Linked DNA regions of Homo sapiens: all the other regions are reported to be linked to region 5. The links are microRNA targets in miRTarBase. Many come from high-throughput screens and were not tested one by one. Region 5 holds a microRNA gene; each other region holds the end of a gene's coding sequence.

Region 1 (5,101 bases), not on the chromosome of region 5:
CAAACCCACCTTGCTGAGGTTTCCCCTGCAAGGGAGCAGAAAGGAGATTTGCAGCCTTCCTCTCCTGGGGGAGACAGGGATCAGGAGAAAGAGCTTAAGGTCCTAGAATTGTTCTTTGAGTATCAAGGGGAAAAAAACCTGACCAAAACTGTGGGCAGTCCTGAGGGACAGTATGGCAGCATTTGAATTCACCCTACAGACATCTGAGAGAGAAGTATTTATGAACACTTCTGTTATCACTTGGGGGTGGAGTGTGTGTACGCATTTGTGTGTGTTTATAATTCACCAGTCCCCTGGGATAGTAGAGGATTCCAGTTAGGTAGACAGCAGCATAATGATTGAATGTCTGGGGTTAAGGCCTTGGGTTCAAGTCTAGCTATGCCATTTATAGGCTGGTGCAAAAGCAACTGCAGTTTTTGCCATTACTTTCAATGGCAAAACCGCAATTACTTGTGCACCAACCTAATACTTCTCTCTCTTGAGACCTTTGGCAATGTATTAAATTATCTAAGCCTGTTTGTCTAGAAAAACAAGTGCGCAGGCAAACAACAACCCATCTGATCCTGTGTGTTGTTAAGGAAATGAAATAATGCAAGGTAAGGACTAGCACCGTCCTGGCACATGGCATAAAAACCTGGTAAATGTGAGCTCTTGAAATGGAATCTGTACCAGAATCTCTTTCATCTTCTAGGACTTCATGTTATACTTGGTTCTGCTTTTCTGTCATTTTTTTCTCTAGATTAGAGCAGCTACCGTTGTTGAGCTCCCTGAAGAGTTAGAGGCATTGCTTTAATAGAGTCTGTGTCAGAAGGCTTAGTGGCTATGGGTCTAGCTGATATTTTCCTTTTTCTCTGCCCCCTTCCTCTTCTCTCCATCATCTGCCATCTCCTATCCTCATATTCCACCAACTCTGGTCCCCTCCTCACTCCCCTTCAATTTGGATCTGGCACCATATGTTTACGGATCAAGATAATTTGTTGCCATGGAGTTTGATTGCCTATTGCCAACTTAGGCCCCATCTATGCAGCTGAATTTCTCAGCTCAAACCAAGCCCATGCTTGTGATGGGTCTCTAAGATTTTGGGTAGTATCCTGGATATCAAAATGTCTATATCTGTATGATGTACTTCTCCTGCCAGAGGCTTGAAAGTAAAGAAATTGGGCTATATTTGCCTAATTAAGTTGTGGGTGGACAATCCTTATGTCTGTCTCTTGGTCTCTCTTGGCCACCTAACATCTCAGTTTTCTTAAACTGTCCCAGTTTACTCTGTTGTTCTAAAGAAACCATTAACAACATCCCCTTTCTCTCTCAACAGTGTTCTGTTTTGGAAGATATATTGTAAGGTCACCCTGTCTTTTGGGATTGGCATATATTTAAGCCTCTTTTCAAATATGGAAAAGATGGTGGGTTACCAGGCAAAAGTTTTTCAGCACAGTACAATAACAAGAACCGTGAGAAGGAAGGTCAGAGTCAAGTTTCAGAAACAGTGCTTCAGAAGGTTTTCTTTCTGTAGTGCAAACAGGAATGTGTTTTTATCATAGCAAGTAGTGCTTTGGAAGACTTGGAAGAGGCTTGCCGCACAATTGACATTTTATGTGGTCAACCCTTATTCAATGGAAAAGTATAAGCTAAAAATATTCAAGGGAAACACACACACACACACACACACACACTCCACATGTTGTTGATGCTTTTGAAACCTCTCCTCTTCTTTTTCTCACCTCACTTTGTGTGACTGGGTGGAATGCATCTTCCACAAAGTGGTGTGAATGAGAAATCTAATAATACTCAGAGCTCAAAGGAGCCGTCACAGCTTGTTCATCCTAAGATTGTGCAGCCATGTTCAAATACAATAGAAAGAAAGCATCCTAGGAGCTGAGAGGGGAAACTCTTAGCTTTGTTGGCGTCAACTATCTCTATCTGAACAGAAGAGACGCAAGCTGGTGTAAGTGCCACATGCTGTCAAGCCGTGACAGTGACATGGGACCACAATGGATAAAAAGAGACAATGAGCACATGTGGCTGCAAAGGCTGGACTGCATGTGGAATAATGCCTTCATCTACAGCAGCTGCAGCTACGGTGGAAATTCAGGGCTCCTCAGGCAGGCCTGAGGAACTAGGTTGACAAGTTCTCCCCTACTTGAGAGAGGAATATACATTCTTGTCATTACTCATGGTATCCACCATGTGCTAATCAACTCTTTCCCTTCCGCATTCTAAGAAGGGACACAGGACCATAAGAAAGGCAATGCAAAATGCTGCCACCTGGTACATGGCTGAAAGGGAAAGGATAATACAAACGCAGAAGGAAAGGATAATACAAACGCAGAAGGGAGAGAAAGGCCAAGAAAACAATGGGTAGTTAATGTTTCTGCTTTATCTAGCAACAGCCAAGCCAGGTTTCCTAGGAAGTTGTGAACCTGCTGACTCTGAATGATGGTGTGATTTATAGTCAGCTCCAGGTTGTCTGTCTTTGACATTCCATTCACTCACATATTTGCATATTCAGAAGCTGTACGAGCACAAAAATATTAATATGAAATCCAATATACGTTACAGTAGAATGACATGTAATTTATTCATATAACTGACAATTAGGCAGTACTCAAAATTCATTTAAATAAGCAAGTGGTTACACAAACATCTAATAATACTAAAATTGATAGTCAGAAGGTATAAAATACCATGGGTATGAAATGCCATGGTAAATACTATTCAACAGACTACAATCATAATTCCAAACTAAATCATGGTTTTTAAAATGATTTTTAGCAGTTCTGGAACAATTTGACTTTTCCCTTTCTAAGCAACTTACTTCTTCCACTGATACAAGACAAGGTCGTTATTTTCAAGAAATATCGCAGAGTGACTTAGCTTAGGTTGCTCTCTTGAAACACATTTTCTTGCAAATTGTTTTTTAATATTGCCCCTTGACATAGAAAACAAACTAGTCAGCACTTAGTTCCCCAAGCAAATATGCTTGGATCAGAACAGTGCCAGGGTGTAACCCAGTTCCGCAAGAGGCAGGCAGTGAAAAACCTTTTGCAGCTTTTGAAATATGCTTATTTCTTTTCTGAGGCTTCAAGCATCATACACTTAGGCATCCAAGCCAATGAAGTTATGGGAATAAAATAGTTTGATATACAGATGACTATGACACAATTGCAACTGGGGTGAGGGGAAGTTACAATATAATTTTGCAGTACTTCAAACAAAAACAGCTCCTACCTAAAGTTACTTCTTGTAAGCCTCATGAAGCATAGCTATGTTTGCAGGAACAGTTTGGCTTATCATGTGTCTGTCTGTACTATTTTATTTATTTATTTATTTATTTATTTATTTATTTATTTATTTATTTATTTATTTTTGAGATGGAGTCTTGCTCTGTCGCCAGGCTGGAGTGCAGTGGTATGATCTCGGCTCACTGTAACCTCCACCTCCCGGGTTCAAGCGATTCTCCTGCCTCAGCCTCCCGAGTAGCTGGGATTACAGGCACCCACCACCACGCCCAGCTAATTTTTGTTATTTTTAGTAGAGACGGGGTTTCACCATGTTGGCCAGGATGGTCTCGATCTCTTGACCTCGTGATCCGCCCGCCTCAGCTCCCCAAAGTGCTGGGATTACAGGTGTGAGCCACTGCGCCCGGCCCTGTTTTGTATTATTTTAAAGTCTTATACTTTATCAGAATGAGGTCCAAGCATGAACCTGGCTTGAAGAGCTAGCAGCAGTAGTCATGAAACATTTCAATAAATTAAAAGGCTTTCACAGAATGAGATTCAGCTAAACCTCTTACATACAAAATACAGCTAGAGAAATACAATTCTTTAATGCTGAATTATGAGGGAGAGGAAAAAAAGTCTAAAAAAATAGAAAACTCTCTCCATACCTGGGTATCAAGGCAAGATGTAACACTGCATAATGCCACAATATGAGCAGTCACTGGATGACAGATACTCCAGAAACAGTGGTCTCTGGGGATCTCGGAATTATGACCAAGAGATGAAAACACTGTACCAAAAGGCATGCATACAATCACTGTGTGCATTCAATGCGTGAGCTGCGACCTAAGCAGAGATCTAACAAGACAATGAGGCAGTGTTCCAGGGTATCCATTAAAACCGGCGTGGGCAACTACATGTTGATTAAACCTTCCGAGGCAGCAAAATGTGGGCACAGCGCCATGTCTGGGTTCTGCAGCTGTTTGATGATCCTCTTGCGGAATTTCTCCCTCACACGATTAAATTCCATTATGTCCATGGGGTCCTCTTCGATCCAAAACTTATGAAATTCATGCATCAAATAGCCTGTTGGAGACAATACAATGATAAGAATGCAGGAGAAAAAAAAATCCTTAATCACATTCAAAATCATTCTGAATGCTGAGGAAGATGCTGAACCAAGCCACAGCAACCGTGGAGCTCAAAGAAGACCTCAAAATCTAGAAAATACCACTGTTTAAGATTATTCTTTAAAATCAGTGCAGTTGAAGCCTACCAATCTGCAAGCTTTTTGCAATTGGCCCTGGAATCATTCTCACTCTTCCCAAGCAGGAAGACAAATCAGTTCTGCCATCTCTTGAGTATGAATCGCATCGGGAACATTTTCTGAAAGGCTGACAGTGACTACTTCATCCTTCTCCTCCTAATTAAATTAATGTGACGGTCCAACTTTTCAAAATCACTCCACTCGGACTTTATTCTCTTGATATTTGATGTAACTAAAGTTTTAAATTACCCCGACAAATCAAACAAATGCATTCTGACACTCTATTATGAGACAATAAAAATTGTAAATCAACCCTGAACAACACAGACTGGTCGTTAAACCACATGAAATTGTTAATAAGACTTCCTTGCTCTGAAGCAATAATTTCATATTCAAATCCTTTGGTGTCTCAAAAATGCTATCCACGAGTGATCTGGATTGAAACAATTTGGGGAATAAATGTTAAGTATTTGATATAAGAACCTATTCATTGTGCTTTGTTCCCCATTATGCCCCCTCCCACTACCACATTTGTTTAATTATTTTTATCTACCACATTTAGTATTGAAATATGCATAGTGTTTTTTTTTTAATACTAGATACTTGTAGGTAGTAA
Region 2 (5,105 bases), not on the chromosome of region 5:
GCCTGAGTGTTTGTGCATATATGTCTCTGGAAGGCTACACGAGAAATGGGCCACAGTGGTGGCCTTGTCATGAGACAGAGGGACAACCATGTTCTGACTGAACTTTTTAAAAAACAAATCCTATGTATTACCTACTCAAAACAAAATGTTTTTGATGTGTGGCTTTTTTTAATTAAAAAACGTTTACTAAGTGCTGTGTGATATCCTTGTTTGGATCCTGGGGCAGAAGCAGGACATGTAGAAAAACTGATGCTATCTGAAAAAAGTCTGGAGTTAATAGTGATGTGGCAATGTTGAACTCTTCATTTTGACAAATGTCCCATGGTAATATGTCAGCACTGGGGGAAACTGGGTGGGAGGTACACAGGAGCTCTATCATCTTTGCAGCTTTTCTATAAATCTAAAATTATTCGAGTATAAAAAGTTTATTAAACTTTTTTTTTTTTTTTTTTACTTCAGTGAAACCTGTCAAATTGCATCTGCAAAATTGTTGTGTCTGAGAAAGTTAAAGCTCACTCCCTTCCCTTTTCTCATCTTGGTTTAGGTCGAAGAATTCCATCCACTGACGCCAACCTGCCATCTGGCGGTAAGGGCTTCAAACTCCGAAGACAGCCTTCAGAGCCAAAGCGGAGCTGCTGCTGACCGAACCTCAGCCTCTCAGACTTGATGATGAAGTAGGTGGTCCTGAAAGTTAACAGGAGGGCTGGGGTCCCTGCCACCAGTTTTCACCTAGCCAGTCTTGAGTCTTCTCCGTGCAAAAAGGATTCACAGAAATGGACCAGTTCTGTTCTCCAAAGACTGCAGCAATGATATTTCAGTCTGTGAACTTCTATTATGTAAAGAATCTCTAGTGTACAAAGGGACTACATCGTTGGCTTTTGACCTTGCTGAAAAGGAACATATAATTGTATGGATGGTAGGATTAAGTTGTTGAGTAGTTTTGTAATCAAGATTTTATGTAACATTTGTAAAGGGAAAATTAGCACTTTTGTGGTTCTTAAGGGAAAAGAAACAGACCTTGTGGAGATTATAATTTCCTTGGTTTCTGTTACCACTGTTAGAGGGAGTTGTATCATTTAACATATAGTAGGATAGTTTAAGTGTAGGGAGGACAATTATTGTCTGAAGCTAAAATGGGTTATTTATAGGACTGATGGAAATGATTTCATCTCTGCCATCTCTAAAGCACTTTTCATTGAACATGTTAGCCTAGGATACGTACAGTAAATTAACAATGATAGCAGCAGATGCCTAGCTCATCCTGGGTTTGCTTCTGACCTTGTCATGTGTGTGCCACCAAACACGTTATTGGCACCTTTTTAAATAAGCTCTCATGATCAAGATGGTGATGGTAGAGAAGCTGCCCGGAATAAACTGAATTTCATATGTTCTAAAATGACTAGCAATGGTTTAAAAAGGAAGAAGAGTGGAAGTGAAGAAGGTGGTATAAATGCTGTCAATTTTTTTTTAACCCAAGTATTTTGGTGGGGAAAAGCAAGTATCTATTGCTTAGCATATGTAAAGTTGTAGTCTATATTTATGGGGCCATTGCTTAAAGATTATAAATTATGTAAATACATTAATAAATTCTAAGTTTCATTTGACATTCCATTGAATCTCGCACCCAGTCTTGCGTATGCCTGCCCAGTTTTCAGCCTCTTAACGGGAGACTCAAGCACATTGGTATTGTATAAAGGTATAGAGCACTTAGCTTACAATCTTTAAAGGTTTCTCTGCCTTCCCTTCTACCCACCCGCCTCCCACCAGATCCCATCTGGAAATCATAATAAAGACATATGCCACTTTGACAAACCTGACTAGTCCTTACTAGCCTGAGGGTAAAAGATTAAGCTCCAACCTCAAGTCATTTACCTGGTCTTGGTAATAAGTTTCTTTTAGCTTGTACAGCATCCTCAGACCAACTGAGGAGCTTTCCTTGTTAACAATTTAGCTTATCTTTCTGTTTCCTTTATTTTTCCCCTGCCTCTGTTAGTGGTTAACACTCTTTTCCCTCAGGGAGCCTAATGAGGTTTTTAATATCATCTAAAAATAAAGCATTGAAGTGAAGTTGGTGAAAATTTGTTCCTGGTCTAATTTGGCACCCTTCCAACCTGAGTATTGTAGGGGAAGGAAATTTACAAGATTTAATAGGAAATGAAACAGCTTGAATTTCAAACTAAATTGTATTTTCAGAGCTATCCTGAAACTGAACAGCTGAAACTTTAAAAAATAATTGGTATTATTTTGTGCCCCCCACTTAATATGGATAGATTTTAATGGGAAAATTATAATTCAGATTAAATAAAAAACAATTCCCTTTTCCCTGTTGTATATCTTAAGCATTTGGAATTTTTTTTATCTTCTGAAATCATATAAAAAGAATGTCATTAGTAAAAATTCTAACTTCGTTTTGTTTAAAAGACATGTGGATGCTCCATGCCCCTAGGATTTTGCTTCCTCCCCGGTGCTAAATTAGCAAGCTCCTAGAGAAGCCATGTGATTCCCAGAGCCAGGCGCTTTACACCTAAAGTAGTTTGACTTTCTTCTGTATACATCCAGATGGATCCCAGGCATCCGGGCACCACCCTGGTGTGTCCCTAGAATTCCCACTGCTGGGCCTCTATCTCCATGACAACAAAATAAAAACAGAGGTTGCTTGACTCATTACCAAAGAGGCAAAGCATGTGCGACCCTTTCTGTCTTATTTTACCAAAAGATGGTGCAAATCTATGACCTTCACATTTTTTCCACCACACCCACCAGTAGCTGTTGGTGATTGCATGGTGTCTCGGTGCATGGGGAAAGGCAAGGTCTTCTGAGCTCATCTTAACTGGTGAGGCATCTGGATGTGTCTGATCTTACTGTGATGTTTTACTGTACCGAGCCCAATGTGGGTCCATCTCATCAGCCCTTTGCTGATTTCATGATTTCTCACCCTCCCTCCCATATGTAGGGTGTGATTCTGTTTTATTATAGCCACATGTTTTATTAACAGAATGAGTGATATGAAGCTTGTACTTATGCATTTCTCGGGCCTCTTCCCTCATTTTCATCAGTCTGTCTAAGAACTTGACTCGGCACTGTTTCTCGTGTAATATCCTTCTAATGCTTAGCAACAACAACAAAAAATTGCTCTCTCAGATCCATAATCCATACTCAGTGAAAGCAGGGAAAAAATATTTTCACTTATTTTATTTGCTTCTAAAATGCAAAGATGAATACTAAAGTCAGAAGCAGTGTTTCATTTTGAACACATTTTGGATTATTAAGCTGACTAAGCAATGATCTAATACACATTTCATATTTTCTTTATAATAATTTCTTATGGAGAAGAGGCTATATTTCAAAGGAATTGAGACATACTCCCATCTATAAACATGTTTGGTTTTCTTACGATACAGGGCCATTTTTTTAAAACTCTCAGGACTGAACAGAAGAGAAAAATTATTAATTAGCTGCTACTGTATGTTGATTCTTTTCGGAGAAATTGAAATAAGCTCTTTGCAGGCGTCCAATCCTAGAAACCAATGGTCTCCAGAACTCTCACACAAGTGTTTTTCTGATTCTATGATAACTAATTAACCATCATCTGGTGATTAAAAGAACATAAAGTAAGATTATGATTAAGTGTCCATCACCTGCCTGTCAGCCGTGGTCAGAATAAGTTTTACACGAAGCAGGTGAAAGATTTAGTTCTTTTCAAAGTAACTTATTTTCTTGTGACCCGTTTATGATGTTGTTTGAAGTCCCTGTTTCCCATTGTGTACGCACTTTCTGGATGTCTGGAAGGATCGGGACTTTTGTGTGAGAGGCTTGAGCGCCTCCTCTATGTGGGCTGGTGTCCTTCTTGAAGTTGTCAATTCCTCTTATTCTTAAATATCTAAAGGGAAAGGAAACCAACTTTAATTTCAGAACTTCTCTTTACGTCTTGTATGTATTTCTTTTCTGTTCTCAAGGAGGAAAATTGGTCTAGGAAGCCTTCTAAATTAAACTCTGGGAAATATAGTAATGAAAATATCCTTTAGCTAACTTTCCTGTAACTGTCAAACCAAAATGTCAGTATTTTTAGGGCATTGTGTTAAAATAAGCAGTTTAGATTCCGACGACACTGCACTAATTGGCATGTCAGCCTCCAGCTCAGAAAGGCATTTGCTCATGGTTACAGGCATCTTTTAGATTCTAAGAGTGAGTTACAGAATTCTTTTTGGTACTTTCACTTATTCTTTCAGAATACATCAAGGATGTGATTTATGGGCCCTTAAGAGTATAAGATATAGGTGCACAGTATGTTACTTAAGTAACGGATGAGCCCCCCTAAACATCCACGTGTCTCTGCAGGAACCTGTGTAAGTATTGTGAAAACCCTTTTCTTCCAGGGAAAAATTATTGGAAATTCCTTAACTGAGCTATACTTGGTACTTGCTCTAGAACATTTGGGAAATGACAAACTCAGGCTGGCTCTCCTCTCTAACCTCACTGGGCTATAAATGTTCCTTCTAACTCTGTAATGAAAGTTCAGTGACAAACTAGATAGTGAACCTGTGAAAGTCATTATTTACATTTGCTTTAAAGGGACAGTTTTACCGTTCAACTTCAAGAGTTTTTCTACCTCTTTAACAGTTAATATTTTTTAAAGGAAGAAATGGAATGTACCTTCAGGGGTCAAGCTGTTAACTGTATACCTGCCTCTAGTTAGCTTGGTTTATCAAAAGGATTTTTAAATGATTCAAGGTAATGTTTAGGATATTTGTTTTAACTCCTGCTGTGCTGTGATTTAAAAAAAAATAGTCTAAGAAACAAATTTATCCATGAGATAAACATCATATTTTATAGTTTTAGAAAAAAGGGTTGGGGGTGGAATTTAGCCTAGAACTTAAAGAAACAACCTCTGCGAATTTCTCTTGACAGCGGAGTTGCTTGTCTTGACTTCTAATAATATAAATCCAGGCAGTTTGATTATCCGATTTGCAAGAAACTTTAATGGAATTCTGGGGCATTTGTCCTGTTTTATGTGCAAATGAAAGTCTAAAAAATATGAGGAAGATATTACATTTTTCAGGAGCCTCCATTTTTTCAGTCTAAGAGAATGATAAGTGAGAGGCCTA
Region 3 (5,105 bases), not on the chromosome of region 5:
TGCTTGTCCTCTGTGTCCTAGGCTCAAAGCTAGGCACTCACATGCCTGGGTCCAGTTAATCTTTCAGAGGCTCTTTCCAAGCAGGAATAGTCACTGTTTCTACAGATGAGCTGGAGCCGGAGGAAGCCCAGCATGTCTGTGACTGGCCCAAGACCCATCACTAGTAAATGGCAGGCCTGGGATTTAGCCCCAGATGGGTCTGACTTGAAAGCACGGGCTCTTTCCATTACACCACACTGCTCCAGGATATGCCATGTAACCGCCACCATGCTGAGCTCAAGCCAGCACCCCAAGTGAGCCTCCCTACTCCACCCCAGCTTAGGAAAGAGGAACCTAACCTGGAGGCTGCAGGGAAGGGAGCAGTCTAAACATAATCCAAGGCAGAAAATTGGAGGTGGAGCAGTGGCCCTGGGTCTTTGAGCCTGGCCATCTGGGGGTGCGGGAGGCCCTGAAAGCATTTTTCTCTCAGCCCATGGTCTTGTCTTTCACCATTTCATCCACTCAGTCTGAAGCTAGGGATGGGGATTTGGCACCAGATAGAGGTGGGAACTCAGGAATGTGTCTCATGAGAGGGCAGGAAAGGAATGGGGAAGTGTCCTCTTTGTGCCTTGTGGGGTTCCCTTGGCTTTTGTCAATTGCACCCCATCGCATTGTCCCTGGTAGCACCGTTAAGAGGTCTGTGGCCCAGACTGACCTTTTGCTTTGTCATCTTTTAGGATCAGCTCATCAGGAACTCAGGATCTGGTACCTGCCTGACATCCCAGGACAAAAAGCCAGCCATGGCCCCCTGCAATCCCAGTGACCCCCATCAGTTGTGGCTCTTTGTCTAGGACCCAGATCATCCCCAGAGAGAGCCCCCACAAGCTCCTCAGGAAACAGGATTGCTGATGTCTGGGAACCTGATCACCAGCTTCTCTGGAGGCCGTAAAGATGGATTTCTAAACCCACTGGGTGGCAAGGCAGGACCTTCCTAATCCTTGCAACAACATTGGGCCCATTTTCTTTCCTTCACACCGATGGAAGAGACCATTAGGACATATATTTAGCCTAGCGTTTTCCTGTTCTAGAAATAGAGGCTCCCAAAGTAGGGAAGGCAGCTGGGGGAGGGTTCAGGGCAGCAATGCTGAGTTCAAGAAAAGTACTTCAGGCTGGGCACAGTGGCTCATGCCTGAAATCCTAGCACTTTGGGAAGACAATGTGGGAGAATGGCTTGAGCCCAGGAGTTCAAGACCGGCCTGAGCAACATAGTGAGGATCCCATCTCTACGCCCACCCTCCCCCCGGCAAAAAAAAAAAGCTGGGTATGGTGGCTTATGCCTGTAGTCGCAGCTACTCAGAAGGCTGAGGTGGGAGGATTGCTTGTTCCCCGGAGGTTGAAGCTACAGTGAGCCTTGATTGTGTCACTGCACTCCAGCCTGGGCAACAGGTAAGACTCTGTCTCAAAAAAAAACAAAAAAGAAGAAGAAAAGTACTTCTACAGCCATGTCCTATTCCTTGATCATCCAAAGCACCTGCAGAGTCCAGTGAAATGATATATTCTGGCTGGGCACAGTGGCTCACACCTGTAATCCTAGCACTTTGGGAGGCCAAGGCAGGTGGATCACCTGAGGTCAGAAGTTTGAAACCAGCCTGGACTACATGGTGAAACTCCATCTCTACTAAAAGTACAAAAATTAGCTGGGCATGATGGCACGCACCTGCAGTCCCAGCTACTTGGGAGGCTGAGGCAGGAGAATCACTCGAACCCAGGAGGCAGAGGTTGCAGTGAGCCAAGACAGCACCATTGCACCCCAGCCTGAGCAACAAGAGCGAAACTCCATCTCAGGAAAAAAAAAAAAAAAAAAAGTATATTCTAACAGACAGATCAGAGGTCTAAGAGATCCTCCCTTGCTATTATTACCTGAAGTCTGTAGAACTGTTTACAGATATCTCCTTGACAGGTGTCCTTTATCTTACTTTATCTGTACAGTAATCCTGTGAGAAAGACAGGACAGAAACCACTGTGCCTATTTTACAGATACGAAAACTGAGACACAGGTAAAGGGGCTTGTCTGTAGTCCCATAGCTAGCAGATGGCTGGAGCCAAGACTGAGGCTCGTTCTTCAATGCTGAGCCAGGGCTCCTTCCGCTGCACCACAAGAACGCTAGACCACTCGCCACCAGCCTTCTCATTCCCTCTTCCTCCATTCTAATCATTTCTAGCTGGCTGGCCTCCACAGAGCATAGGAAAACAGCCAGGGCCGGGCACGGTGGCTCATGCCTGTAATCTCAACACTCTGGGAGGCCGAGCCGGGTGGATAACCTGAGGTCAGGAATTCGAGACCAGCCTGGCCAACATGGTAAAACCCCATCTCTACTAAAAATATAAAAATTAGCCAGGCATGGTGGCGCACACCTGTAATCCCAGCTACTCAAGAGGCTGAGGCAGGAGAATTGCTTAAATCTGGGAGGCGGAAGTTGCAGTGAGCCAAGATCGCGCCACTGAACTCCAGCCTAGGCAACAAGAGCAAAACTCCATCTCCAAAAAAAAGAAAGGAAAAACAGGGCCAGGTAGCCATTGTGGAGAGAGCACACTTAGGAATCCTGGGATGTTAGTGTTAAAAGAAAGCTCCTGGAGCCAGTGATTCTCAGGTTTGTCCCAGAACCCTTTTTTCTAAGCCCCATATAAAAGGTAGATTAAAAAAACAAAGTAGCATGAGTGAAATTGAGAGAGGGACAGGTAATGCCTTCCAGCCCCTAACTTCTAACAATCTGGAAGCACAACGTGAAAATCACGTAGCCCAACCCTATCATTTTCATATTATGAAACTGAGTCCAGGTAAGTGAATCTGTCCAAGGTCACCCAGCAAGGTATCAGTAGCCCTGAGGGTAAGGACTCTGATAAGGCTCGGGAGGGTCCTGGAAAGCCTGAGGCGGCAGGAAGAGTGTGCAGAGTTGAGCGTGTCTGGAAGGCTGATCCACTGCTGGGCCCACATCAAAGCCCCCATGGGGAGCAGACCCGACTGCACATGGCTCTTTTGCTGGAAGAAGAGCATGGCTGCGCAGAGGACTAAAATTTCATCTGGGAAGGCTTCTTTTGACTGTCAGTAGCAGGATGTCACCAGATGAGGGTGCTATGGGACCACAGCTGTCTTTGTTCCCATTGCAACTCAACCCTGCGGGAGGCCGCCTACATCCCTGAGAGCCTTCTGGAGCCTACAGAGGAGACATTGGCCAGCCAAAAGGAAAGGAGTGGCCAGGGTACGACCTGGAGTAGGGAAGGGAAAAAGTTCCCGGAAAGAAGAGAATTGGATGAGAGGTCTCAGTGGAAATAAAGGTTTTCTGGCATTGGTCAAGGAAACTCGCGTTGTGTTCTCTTACCTGTGTTGTCCCTTAGCTGAATCAGTTGATTTGGGCTATGAAGAACCACACACATCTGAAAAGTTCTGTTACAGCCACTGTCTCATGTCCCCAAACATTCTCTGGCCCTAAATCTAGCTTATGTATTGTGTCAAGCACGTGGAGACGTGAGACGTCAAACGAGGTCCTGTCCCCGTGGAACTCACACGCTAAATGTAAGCAAATCATAGCAAGCCTGGAGATGCTCCAAGAGGTGCTGGATGAGTTAGAAGGAGCAATTCCTTCCACTTAGGGAATCAGATAAGGCCTCACAAAGATGGCAATGTTTGACCTAAGACCTCGGAAGATGAGTCCTCAGATGGGAAGGGCTCAATAAGCAGAGTTGTTACACAGGCAGCAGCCTGGCAGGAGCAAAGCCACAGAGGACATGTGGCCCCAGTGGGTCTGAGAAACCCAGAGGACATTGGGGTGAGGGAGTGACTGGTGTAGAAGCTGGAAGATCAGAGTTACATCATGAATTTCAGGGGCCCTAGGCACTTTAGCCTTCACGGAGCTCTTGCTCCATTCAAAAAAAAATTAATGTTATGACTATGTTGGTATAAAGATGAATGTAATCCAGGCTGATTGGATTTACTTTATTTCTTCTGGTTTTAAAAGAAGCTAAAACATTTCTATGGGCCCTGGGCACTGCACCTGCTGTGCCTACTGGGTAACTCAGCCCCGTACAAGAGTGGGTTGGGGCCCAGTTGAGAGAGGCTTTGGTAGGTCCGGTAAGCCACAGGGAGTCGTGGAGCCTAACCCTAGCCTTATTCTTGGTTGCATTAAATATCCAAACGTGGATCCCAGTATCCCTCATACTGTCTATGGTATCACCCAACAGCTCCCCAGCCTAATCATATGATGTAGCCCAACCAAGGTGCCCAGCTGTGTCAAGAAGGTTCCACCTGCCCCCAAATAGCATAGCACTTCCCAGGCACAGTCAGCCAAGAGCTACTCGCAGGGAGTGGGAGATGCAGCAGGAGGGAGACACAGGCTGTGTCTAGAGAGGAGGTCTGGGTTCAGGGATGAGGGGAGGACTAGGGAAGGGAGGTGGTGGAGAAGAGGGAGAAGGCACTGATGGGAGTGGTGGGAAGGCTCAAGAAACTAGCTTTGGCCAGGCACCAATGTCTGACAACTGTAATCCCAGCACTTTCAGAAGCCGAGGCGGGCAGATCACTTGAGGTCAGGAGTTCAAGACCAGCCTGGCCAACATGGCGAAACCCAGTCTGTACTAAAAATACAAAAGTTAGCCAGACGTGGTGGCAGGCGTCTGTAATCCCAGCTACTCGGGAGGCTGAGGCACAAGAATCGCTTGAGCCTGGGAGGCAGAGGTTGCAGTGAGCTGAGATTGTGTTTCAGCCTGGGTGACCGAGTGAGACTCTGTCTCAAAAAAACAAACAAACAAACAAGAAACTAGCTTCTTCATGGCATTTTCCTTAGTCAAGCCTGGCCTGGCCCTAACAACACCCGTATTCTTCCTTAAAACCCACCCCTCTGACCACTCTCAGCTAACCTAAGGCCCCTACCTCTTAAAACCCTGCTGCTAGCCCTGTGCTACTATCTCCCGGCTCTAGGAGTCTCTCACTCTAGCATTAAAGAGCTAGGCCTCTCTGGGGATCTGTTTCCCACATGAAGAGTACTGGGGCCATTGCCACAAATAGCTAGATGTCCCAGAATTTATTCTTATTTTTAATTACCAAAGTAATACTGTGCCAGCCTGGCCAACAT
Region 4 (5,105 bases), not on the chromosome of region 5:
TAAGCAGGAAGAATTACTGCAAGATATGCTGGTTTGATGAGAGCATAAACTAAAAGAATACATACCTAAGAACAGTTTGCACATCTTGATTTGGATAGCCAGAAAGGTTCAGAGTCATCTTAGATAATTTTTTATTATATTTTTGGAGATGGAGTCTAGCTCTGTGCCCAGTCTGGAGTGCAGTTGCATGATCTTCGTTCACTGCAACCTCCGTCTCCCGGGTTCAAGCAATTCTCCTGCCTCAGGCTCTCAAGTAGCTGGGACCACAGGCACACACTGCCATGCCCAGCTGATTTTTTGTATTTTAGTATAGACGGGGTTTCACCGTGTTGCCCAGGCTGGTCTCGAACTCCTGAGCTCAGGCAATCCGCCTGCCTCGGCCTCCCAGTGTTAGAATTACAGGTATGAGCCACCATGCCGGGCCGATAAATTTTTAAAGAACCTTAAAAACTGCCCTTTCCTCAGCTGCTGCCAAGGTGCTTGGTCATTCCAAGGAAGCTAAGGCCACATTGGGGTGAGAGCCTCACTTCATCCGGCGATTAGCACCTCATCCAGCAGCGCCAGCCCCACACACACCCGTGCCATGGCCTCCCTCTCCGAGCTCGCCTACATCTACTCGGCCCTCATTCTGCATAATGATAAAATCAATGCCCTCATTAAAGCAGCTGGTGTAAATGTTGAACCTTTCTGGCCTGGCGTGTTTGCAAAGGCCCTAGCCAATGTCAGCATCGGGAACCCCATCTGCAATGTAAGGGCTGGTGGACTTGCAGCAGCTGGAGATCCTACCCCCTCCACTGCTGCTGCTTCAGTTGAGAAGAAAGTGGAAGCAAAGAAAGAAGAATCCGAGGAATCTGATGAGGACATGGGCTTTGGTCTTTTTGACTAAACCTCTTTTACAGCATATTCAATAAAAACCTAAACTTTGAAAAAAAGAAATAACCTTAAAAATTGAAGCACTGCTTTCTGTATGGCAGTAGGATGCAACACAAGCCAGAAATCTGAGTGGTTTCCAAATGTTAAAGAAACAACTATTGGCTGGGCGTGGTAGCTCATGCCTGTAATCCCAACACTTTGGGAGGCTGAGGCAGGTGGATCACCTGAGGTCAGGAGTTTGAGACCAGCCTGGCCAACATGGTGAAACCCTGTCTCTACTAAAAATACAAAAAAATTAGCTGGGTGTGGTGGCGTGTGCTTGTAATCCCAGCCACTTGGGAGGCTGAAGCAGGAGAATCGCTTGAACTCGGGAGGCGGAGGTTGCAGTGAGCTGAGATGGTGCCATTGCATTCCAGCCTAGGCAACAAAAGTGAAAACTCCGTCTTAAAAAAAAAGAAAAAGAAAAAAAAAAACAACTATTGCTAAAAAACCAGGAAGGTGTGGGGAAGAAACAATCTTGATGAAGATAAAGTAGCTTCAGGCATCAACGCCCTTTAAAAGGCATAACTTTTGCTAGAAAAATTGGCAATATTTACATTAATATGTGGCATTTAAGTATTCAGAATAATTATCTTTCTTAATGTACTATTTCTAAAATCACCTCCCATAAATTGTCTTAGGGTCAATATCCAATTACCTTTTAAAAATATTTTTCTTGGCTATAGCATTTTTATGAAAAAACATTCAAGATTTAAAAATATAATCACTTGAAGCTCATTAAGGACTGCCAAAAATCTAATTTTATTTTTGCATCCTTTATAAATAAAAAGCAACCGATAACCACTTTCCTCTTAGATCCAACTTCAATGACCACATTCTCAGAACTACCAAAAGACTTCAAGTACACTGTCTGTAAGGAACAGTTTATAATTGCTGAATTTTACATTTTTGCTTAATATACAACATTTCTGCTTAATATATCAAGCATATTTTTGCTTAATATATTTTTGTAAACTATAGTTAACTCTTGGAATGTCTAAACTACCTTATTTTCTTCATTAATAAAAATGAGTAATTTAAAACTTCATGCACATGTAACATTTTACTATTATTATTTTTGAGACAAAGTCTTGCTCTGTCACCCAGGCTGGAGTGCAGTGGCACGATCTCGACTCACTGCAACCTCTGCCTCCTGGGTTCAAGTGATTCTCCTGCCTCGGCCTCCCAAATAGCTGAGATTACAGGCATGCACCACAATGCCCGGCTAATTTTTTGTATTTTTTTTTTTTTTTTTGAGAGGGAGTCTCGCTCTGTCGCCAGGCTGGAGTGCAGTGGCGTGATCTCGGCTCACTGCAACCTCCACCTCCTGGGTTCAAGTGATTCTCCTGCCTCAGCCTCCCTAGTAGTTGGGACTACAGGCATGCGCCACCACGCCCAGCTAATTTTTGTATTTTTAATAGAGACAGGGTTTCACCATGTTGGCCAGGATGGTCTCGATCTCTTGACCTTGTGATCCACCCGCCTCCACCTCCCAAAGTGCTGGGATTACAGGTGTGAGCCACCGCGCCCGGCTAATTTTTTGTATTTTTTGTATTTTTAGTTGAGATGGGGTTTCACCATGTAGACCAGGTTGGTTTTGAACTCCTGACCTCAAATGATCTACCTGTCTCAGCCTCCCAGAGTGCTGGGATTACACACATGAGCCACTGCGCCGGCATATGTAACATTTTAAATACCTGACTTCCTTAACATAAGGTAAGACAGTCTTAGGCAGGCTGCCACTGGGAATGTTTTTTTCTTTTTCTTTTTTAAATTAGAGACAGGGTCTCACTACATTGCCTAGATTGGTCTCAAACTCCTGGGCTCAAGCAATCTTCCTCTCTTGGCCTCCCAAAGTGTTGGGATTGCAGGTGTGCGCCACTAGGCCCAGCTTGAAAAATTTTTTAATGCATGTGGTAATCCACAGGAGATCACATTTAGTATATGACCAAGTTAATTAAGAAGTCAAAAAACACGTTAAATTTAAGCAGAATAAGGCTGGGTTCGGTGGCTCATGCCTGTGATCCCAGCACTTTGGGAGGCAGAGGTGGGCAGATCATTAGGCCAGGAGTTCGAGACCAGCCTGGACAACATGGCGAAAGTCTTTACTAAAAATACAAAAATCAGCTGGGCGTGGTGGTACACACCTGTGATCCCAGCTACTCAGGAGGCTTAGGCACATGATCGCTTGAACCTGGGAGATGGAAGCTGCAGTAAGCTGAGATCCTGCCACTGTACTCCAGCCTGGGTGACAGATCAAGACTCTAACTAAAAAACCCCCCAAAAAACAAATAGTTACTTGGAAAACTTCCGACATTTATTTACTTCTGGACAAACAAATGAGTGGGAAGAATCATCAGTATACACCTCTTAATTGTATTTTTTTTTTTTTTTGAGACAGAGTCTTGCTCTGTCGCCCAGGCTGGAGTACAGTGGTACGATCTCAGCTCACTGCAACCTTTGCCTCCCGGGTTCAGGTGATTCTCCTGCCTCAGCCTCCCGAGTAGCCGGGATTATAGGCATGGAGAACCACACCTGGCTAGTTTTTGTATTTTTAGTAGAGATGAAGTTTCACCATGTTGGCCTGGCTGGTCTCAAACTTCTGACCTCAAGTGATCTGCCCGCCTTGGTCTCCTAAAGTGTTGGGATTACAGGCGTGAGCCACCGTGCCTGGCCAATGTTAGTTTTTATCCTTAAAATTGCCTGAGTTCTTAGAACACAGAAAAAACAAATTTGAATGCATTTCTAACAGCTTAATAATTTATATGTCCCATTATGATTTTAGCGGAATGTTTTAAAGCAAAGCATAATTCACTGCAAAGATAAACCTGAAAAAGCAAACAAACTTACAAATGGTATGTTATGACCTAGACAAAACTGATTATCAACTAGTAATACTCATAATTAGCACATGCAACAGATTGAGAAATTAAATCCTGTGCTATATACTCTTAAGTATTTTGTCAGATATATCTTTAAATGTTCTATCAATTGCATTCCTTTCCACACATATTTTAAACAAGAAAACAATTGTCTTTCCTCCAGATTCTCATGTTTATCAGTGCAAAACGTTGCAATCTCAGTAAAAATGGTTTATTACAATGTTATTTTAGAAAGGCTTAGTCCTCAAACTGTTGAAAATGTACTTAAAAGATGTCCAAATCATGAGAATGATCAACTTCAATGGCTTCCTCTGCCTCCAACTTGGCTTCTGCATGTCCTTCCTGTGACTCATCAAGAGAGGCCAAGGCCTCATTCGTGTCACTTGCAAAAGTTTCTCGTGATGTATCATCATCTTCTTGAAAATTTAGACTTTTAATAGCTTGTTTCATCTTTTTCCCCAACACTTGTGTTCTCCTCTTCCTAGCAGCTTTTTTATTTTCATATTCCTTTTGGTTTTCAATGTAGAAAATGTCCTGTAATAAAGGAACAAAGTTAGTAAACAAGAACTACCACGTTATTAAAGGTTTATTCCATGACTGTCCCTTTAAAATCATTATCTCCATTTCTTACAAAAAATACAAGTATTATTAGGCTCATTATTAAGATGGAGTTCAAGATATTAAGTAAGTACTCATTGCAAGATTGAAACTGATTTAAACCCAGCCTAGTGTTAGGTTTAGGGCCCATGCTTATTCTACCTTAATGTATCATCTCTACAGTTAAAAATTTCCTAAATGAAGGCTGGGCATGGTGACTCATGCCTGTAATCCCAGCACTTTGGGAGGCGGAGGTGGGTGGTTCACTTGAGGTCAGGAGTTGCAGACCAGCCTGGCCAACATGGTGAAACCCTGTCTCTCCTAAAAATACAAAAAGTAGCCGGCTGTGGTGGCACACACCTGTAGTCTCAGCTACTAGGGAGGCTGAGGCAGGAGGATCATTTGAACCCAGGAGACAGAGGTTGCAGTGAGCCGAGACTGTGCCACTGCACTCCAGCCTGGGCAGCAGAGCGAGACTGTGTCTCAAAAAAAAAAAAAAAAAACCCAAAACCAAACCAAAACAAAAAGTCAAAAAGTTTTGGAGCATTTTGGATTTTCAGATTAGGGATTGTCAACCTGTACTAAAACAGAGACGGTTCAAAGGTTTAAAAAAGAAGCTAGTGTAGGCAGGACACACTTCTGGGACCCTATTATCTCCTGGGCAGGGATTCCAAAAAGCTCAAGCCAAGCCAGTCCCTGTTATATTCTTAAAGA
Region 5 (5,105 bases):
CCTGACAGTTACTCTCATGCAGGTCTCATTATGTGGAAGAGCATTCTGAGGTCCGGACAGGTTAAGTCACTTGCAGAGGTCACATGGTGAAGAAATGATGAAGCACCTTGCAGATCAGATGCTGGCTCAGCAAACCCATGTCTTCTTCATCCCAGGCACACAAGGCTACATGCACTTCCAAGCTTCCCATGTGCCAGAGGTCTTTGTGGAGCCCAGTTCTCACCAGTGGGGTTGGGTGGGGCGGTTGTGTGCTGTGTGCTACTTATGACATGCAAACCTTCACGCTCTTTTCTGTTCCTTGCTGGCTGCAATGGAAAAAATCCCCAACTTGTTCTTAGATGTCTCATGTTGGAGTTAGTAGAATCACAATGTAGAAGAAGTCTGGTTTCTAAGATCAGCCATTAACAAAAGCTCCCTTTTCAGTAATGCCCACAGAATAACATTCTCTGAACGAAGAAAGAGCGGACATAAACCCCTGTAATTTCTTCAGTTACTTGTGTTTTTCTGATGCCATTTATGTTCATTGAGCTACTGTTATTTGAGGCTGATCTTCAGAAGCCACTGGTATTACTGTAACTGATTCAGTCAGTGGATTAAATGTCTCACAACACGGCCATCTGCTAGAAATGGGGAAAGAGCAATGATGCCCTCAGGCTTTGACAAGCTTCTTGGCTGGCAGAAGAAAGTGGAGTCAGGCTTTGAGACTAGGGATTTAGGGGGGGAAATGAGGCCCCTCAAAGTTGATGATATCATAGCCACACTTTACTATTGTGCCTTGTACTGAATTTGCATGGAGATGGCATATGTCGAGGATTTCAACAGGGCTGCTAAGTTTCTCCAATTGCCTTTCCAATGATCAGCCAAACATCGTATTGGTCAGTACATATATGATTTTAAAATGTAGAATTAGAGAGAGCAAAATAGAGAGAGAGAAAGAAAGCTAACTATAAGAGATATTTAGATAATGCATGTTTTGCAGTGAGTTTGACATTATAATTGAATGACTTCAGACATTACAATGGCATCTACTAAAATGTTTTCCACAGGCTGAGATTGCTGCCTTGCCCTTGGTCTACCCCCAAGTTTCTCAACCATCCCACTGTCAGAGGCGTTTGAACCAGAGCAACTCCACTATCTTGAATAGGGGCTGGGGAAAGTAAGGCTGAGATCTGCTGGGCTGCATTCCCAGAAGGTTAGGCATTCTTAGTCACAGGATGAGATAGGAGGACGGCAGAAGATACAAGTCATAAAGACCTTGCTGACAAAACTGGTTGCAGTAAACAAGCCGGCCAAAACTCACCAAAACCAAGATGGCAACAAAAGTGACCTCTGGTCATCCTCACTGCTCATTATATGCTAATTATAATGTATTAGCATGCTAAAAGACACTCCCGCCAGCGCCATGACAGTTTACAAATGCCATGGCAACATCCAGAAGTTACACTACATGGTCTGAGAAAGGGAGGAACCCTCAGCTCCAGGAACAGCCCACCCCTTTCCTGGAAATCTCATGAATGGTCCACCCCTTGTTTGGCATATAATGAAGGAGTAATAATAAGTATCCTCGGTGGAGCAGCTCAGTGGAGTAACCATTCTTTTTTTTTTTTTTTTTAACTTTCTTAATCAACTTGCTTTCACTTTACTCTATGGACTCACCTCAAATTCTTTTTTGTGCGAGATCCAAGAACCCTCTCTTGGGGTCTGGATAGAGACCCCTTTCTGGTAACACCACTATTGACATTTGGAAGGAGATATTTCTTATGATGGGAAGCTGGCATGTGCCCTGTAGTATCGCTGGGCCTCTGCCTGCTAGATGCCAGGAACAACCTCCCAGCGAGGACAAATAAAAAACGTGTCCAGATATTGCTAAACATCCCTAGAGGACCCAGTTGCCTCTGATTTCCCTTGAGTAGCTAAGCATAGCCAGAACTTACATTTGTATAAATGAATGAAAGAAAGAATAAGTCATTTTCCTAACAATGGTTACTTTACATTTGAAACACTAGAGCCCTTTCCCCACTTCTCTTTATGAACACAGAGATCGCCTGGAAAAAGTCTATGCACTTAACCCTTCTACTAGGTGGCTTTGGGTATAGAAGAAAAAAGCCCCACACCCCGGAGCAATCAACATTTAGGAAAGTGAAATCACAGGAGAAAGAGGGTGTCATACAAGTCGCTACTAATTTCCTTGACAAACGCTGTTTTGAGGAGCACTGTTAACTCTCTGAAATCTCTGTTTTCTCCCTCCTGAAAGATTTTTAGAGAGGATTCCTTTCAAAATTGGGTTCCGGGACTCCGTGTTTCCAGTGGAATGCTGTCACCATGAGACCCCGTGACGCACTAGCCCAGGAATGCCGGCAATAGCCAAGCAGAGCCCTGTGCCTGTTCTCTTCCTGGCACAGAGGCACACAAAACCCAAGCAGGCCCACCCAAGTCAGATCCTGGGCTGTGGGAAAGCCTTAGTGAATGAGCTCATTGAAGTGGAGAGATGAAAATGAGGGAGCTCTGAAACTGGCAGGGCCTGCAGAGGATTCCTAGGGGCAATTCCTCTGCCCAGAAAACAAGGGAAGGGGCCTAAAGCCCAAACAAGGACCCTCCTGATTAGTAGGGAGACAGAAAGCTCCACTCTCTTCCCCTCGCCCCCGCCCCCCACCCCATAAAACAAAGCTATTCGGGATGCTTCAATTGCCAAGTAGTGCAACAAATCACTTTGCCAAACGTGAACTCTGAAGTCAGGGGTGCTCAGCTCCGGCAAATGCCACTCTATGTCTGCTCATCCATGCAAGACGCTTTGCAATGAGAATGTTTACACTAGCCCTCCGTAAAGCACACAGTTACAACCCATCAGGAGGTATGCAATCAGCAACCAGGATGCACTGTCTGCTCTGGGCTTAGAGGCTATGAGCTAGGGCCATTTGCATAACTGAGTCAATGAAGGTGGTGAAAAGGGTTTTGATTCCTATCTTGCATGTGGAATCTCATTCTCTCTTAGAGATAATGAGTTATGGGGTCATCTATCCTTCCCTTGGAAAATGATCTGAGATGACACTGTAGCTCCCCATCCTCTGGGATCATTGATGTCTGTAAGATTTTATAGGAAGCAATTGAGTTGAGTGTACCCCCTTTCCCCTGTCCTCAATCTAAGTGATAATCTCTGGCACCCCAAAGGGTGTCAGACTGCTTTGTTGATCTTAATTCTGGAATCCCTCTAATCCCTAACTGGGCTTCCCACAATACCAGTGCCCTGGCTTAAAGGAGGTTTGCAGTATGCACACATCTCTGAGGATGGCTCAACTCTCCTGGCCCCCAAGGAATTCCAGGTATTCCATCCCTCTTAATACCTCCTGAAGTCTCTTAACTTCCACCAGACATCTTGTAATTCAGCCTAGATGACCAGATTTGCGTTTGCACCTGTCAATCAGCCTTTCGAGTTCTTGATGGAGAGAATGGAAAACATTCCGTTCTTACCAGACAATTCCTCTCCATGCCACAGAGCTGGCAGAGCACCTAATAGTGATGCTGGGTAAAGTGGCTCTCCAGGGGCACTGGGCTGCTACAGTTTTGAGGACAAGCACCCACACACAGCCAGTGGGCCCCAGGGCAAGCGCACTGTGAGGCGTGAGACTCTACCCAGTAAAGCTGGAGCCTTCAACCCCATAACTCCACCAACATTTGAAAACTCCAATTGCCTCTGGAAGATACTGCCGCTTTCTTCTCCAGGAAAGCATCTTCTGTCTGCTGAGAGTAATATTGTGCGTGGAAAGTCCCTTACCACGTAGTGTTCAGACACTGGAGAAAGGGAGAGGGAGTCATCACTCTGAGAGAATCCACGAGAGATCTGTGAAGCTGATGGAATTTCAGGGCGCAGGGTGTCCTATTCATACAGTAGACCTGAGTGTGTTCTGCTCACATTCCAAAACAACAGGACAGGGGAGGTAAGGACCTATATAGAGAGCCTCTGCCTATATAAATCAGCTTTCCTTCCAAACCATAAAGCCAAGGAACACTAGAGCTGTGAATCCTGGGAAGCATTTTGATTTTGTGTTCTTTCACATCTGTCTCATTAACATACGAAATAAAGTTAGTTAGTTGCAGGTTGTTTCTTTTTAAAAAAAAGAACAAGACAGGTGTAAAATCTATAAACACCTGCTAGATCAGTAACTGCCTCTCAACAAGACCAGCTGGCACATCAACATCTCCAGGAGATCATATCTTAAATGTAAAGTGAACAGTTAATGTTCCTGAACTACCTCTTATTTTAAAGCCATAGGAAACCTTTTGCGGGGGGGTGGGGGGCATCTCCCCAAACTCCTGCGCATGACAAGAGCTCTGCACAAAAGATAGGAAGACCCGGTCACCCTAGGCCACCTCAGCAAGGCGGTTGGTTATGTTCTGCTGAGAAGCCATGGAGCGATTATGTGAAGAAAGGCTGTTCTCTTTACCGGTGCCAAGAAAAAGATTAGATAAGAAAAGGTCACTGGGGCAAGGAGGGGTGAGTGGTTGTTTAATTTTTAACAAACATTGCGCACTCCATAGCATGGCTGTTTCCCCCACTGTATGATGTTTCAAACATTAATTGAATAAAGGGATGGTCTAAGCAAAGGTAAAAGTAGCCCTAAACAGAATGTTCCTTTGTGATCGGCGAGAATAGTTTGGGACTACATAGTCATGGGGCCTCAGAAGGACAGAAAGTCTACAACCAAGTTTGTGTTTTTTAAATGATTAGATCCAATCTGTGGGTATTTGATAAGTTGCCAAAACATTTCTTTAAATGTGTCGGCTGGGTGCGGTGGCTCACGCCTGTAATCCCAGCACTTTGGGAGGCTGAGGTGGGAGGATCACTGGAGCCCAGGAGTTCGAGACCAGCCTATGCAACATAGGGAGACTCCCATCTCTACAAAAAAATAACAAAAAATCGCCAAGCGCCTATAGTCCCAGCTGCTTGGGAGGCTGAGCTGGGAGGGTCGCTTGGACTCAGATCAAGGCTGCAGTGAGTTATGATCGCACCACTGCACTCCAGCTTGGGTGACAGAGCAAGATCTTGTCTCAAAAAAAAAAAAAAAGGACAGATGTTGCAGGGATGAAGAGTAGGATGAGGTGGGTGG

The links. Region 5 holds the annotated microRNA hsa-miR-4770 (UGAGAUGACACUGUAGCU, at 3,039-3,056, shown strand). A microRNA usually pairs through its seed, bases 2 to 8, with sites in the 3' UTR of a target mRNA and lowers its output. Matches are read on the target gene's strand: a 7mer-m8 pairs with bases 2 to 8, a 7mer-A1 pairs with bases 2 to 7 and ends in A, and an 8mer does both.
Region 1: miRTarBase lists ELMOD1 as a target of hsa-miR-4770. Seed matches in the 3' UTR shown: 7mer-m8 at 3,997-4,003 and 7mer-A1 at 3,368-3,374.
Region 2: the mRNA of RAB22A is a reported target of hsa-miR-4770. Seed matches in the 3' UTR shown: 7mer-m8 at 1,166-1,172 and 7mer-A1 at 2,898-2,904.
Region 3: the mRNA of GALNT6 is a reported target of hsa-miR-4770. Seed matches in the 3' UTR shown: 7mer-A1 at 1,817-1,823.
Region 4: the mRNA of PHAX is a reported target of hsa-miR-4770. Seed matches in the 3' UTR shown: 7mer-m8 at 3,473-3,479 and 7mer-A1 at 2,475-2,481.

The regions. Positions count from the first base shown.
Region 1 is chr11:107,664,228-107,669,328 of GRCh38, reverse strand. ELMOD1 (ELMO domain containing 1) reads right to left here. Exons shown (of 12, transcript NM_018712.4): 12 at 2,550-4,304. The coding sequence ends at 4,132. Among named protein-coding and RNA genes, the nearest start is that of SLN, 45 kb to the left of the region's middle.
Region 2 is chr20:58,359,062-58,364,166 of GRCh38, forward strand. It overlaps RAB22A (RAB22A, member RAS oncogene family), which reads left to right. Exons shown (of 7, transcript NM_020673.3): 7 at 545-5,105. The coding sequence ends at 642. Among named protein-coding and RNA genes, the nearest start is that of VAPB, 28 kb to the right of the region's middle.
Region 3 is chr12:51,350,104-51,355,208 of GRCh38, reverse strand. It overlaps GALNT6 (polypeptide N-acetylgalactosaminyltransferase 6), which reads left to right. Exons shown (of 12, transcript NM_007210.4): 12 at 717-3,957. The coding sequence ends at 830. Among named protein-coding and RNA genes, the nearest start is that of CELA1, 6.0 kb to the right of the region's middle.
Region 4 is chr5:126,623,798-126,628,902 of GRCh38, reverse strand. PHAX (phosphorylated adaptor for RNA export) reads right to left here. Exons shown (of 5, transcript NM_032177.4): 5 at 1,651-4,328. The coding sequence ends at 4,059. It also overlaps the pseudogene RPLP1P7. Among named protein-coding and RNA genes, the nearest start is that of SPMIP10, 5.4 kb to the left of the region's middle. RefSeq lists a silencer at 3,900-4,100.
Region 5 is chrX:6,381,858-6,386,962 of GRCh38, reverse strand. It overlaps MIR4770 (microRNA 4770), which reads left to right and starts at 3,000; the gene lies at 3,000-3,057.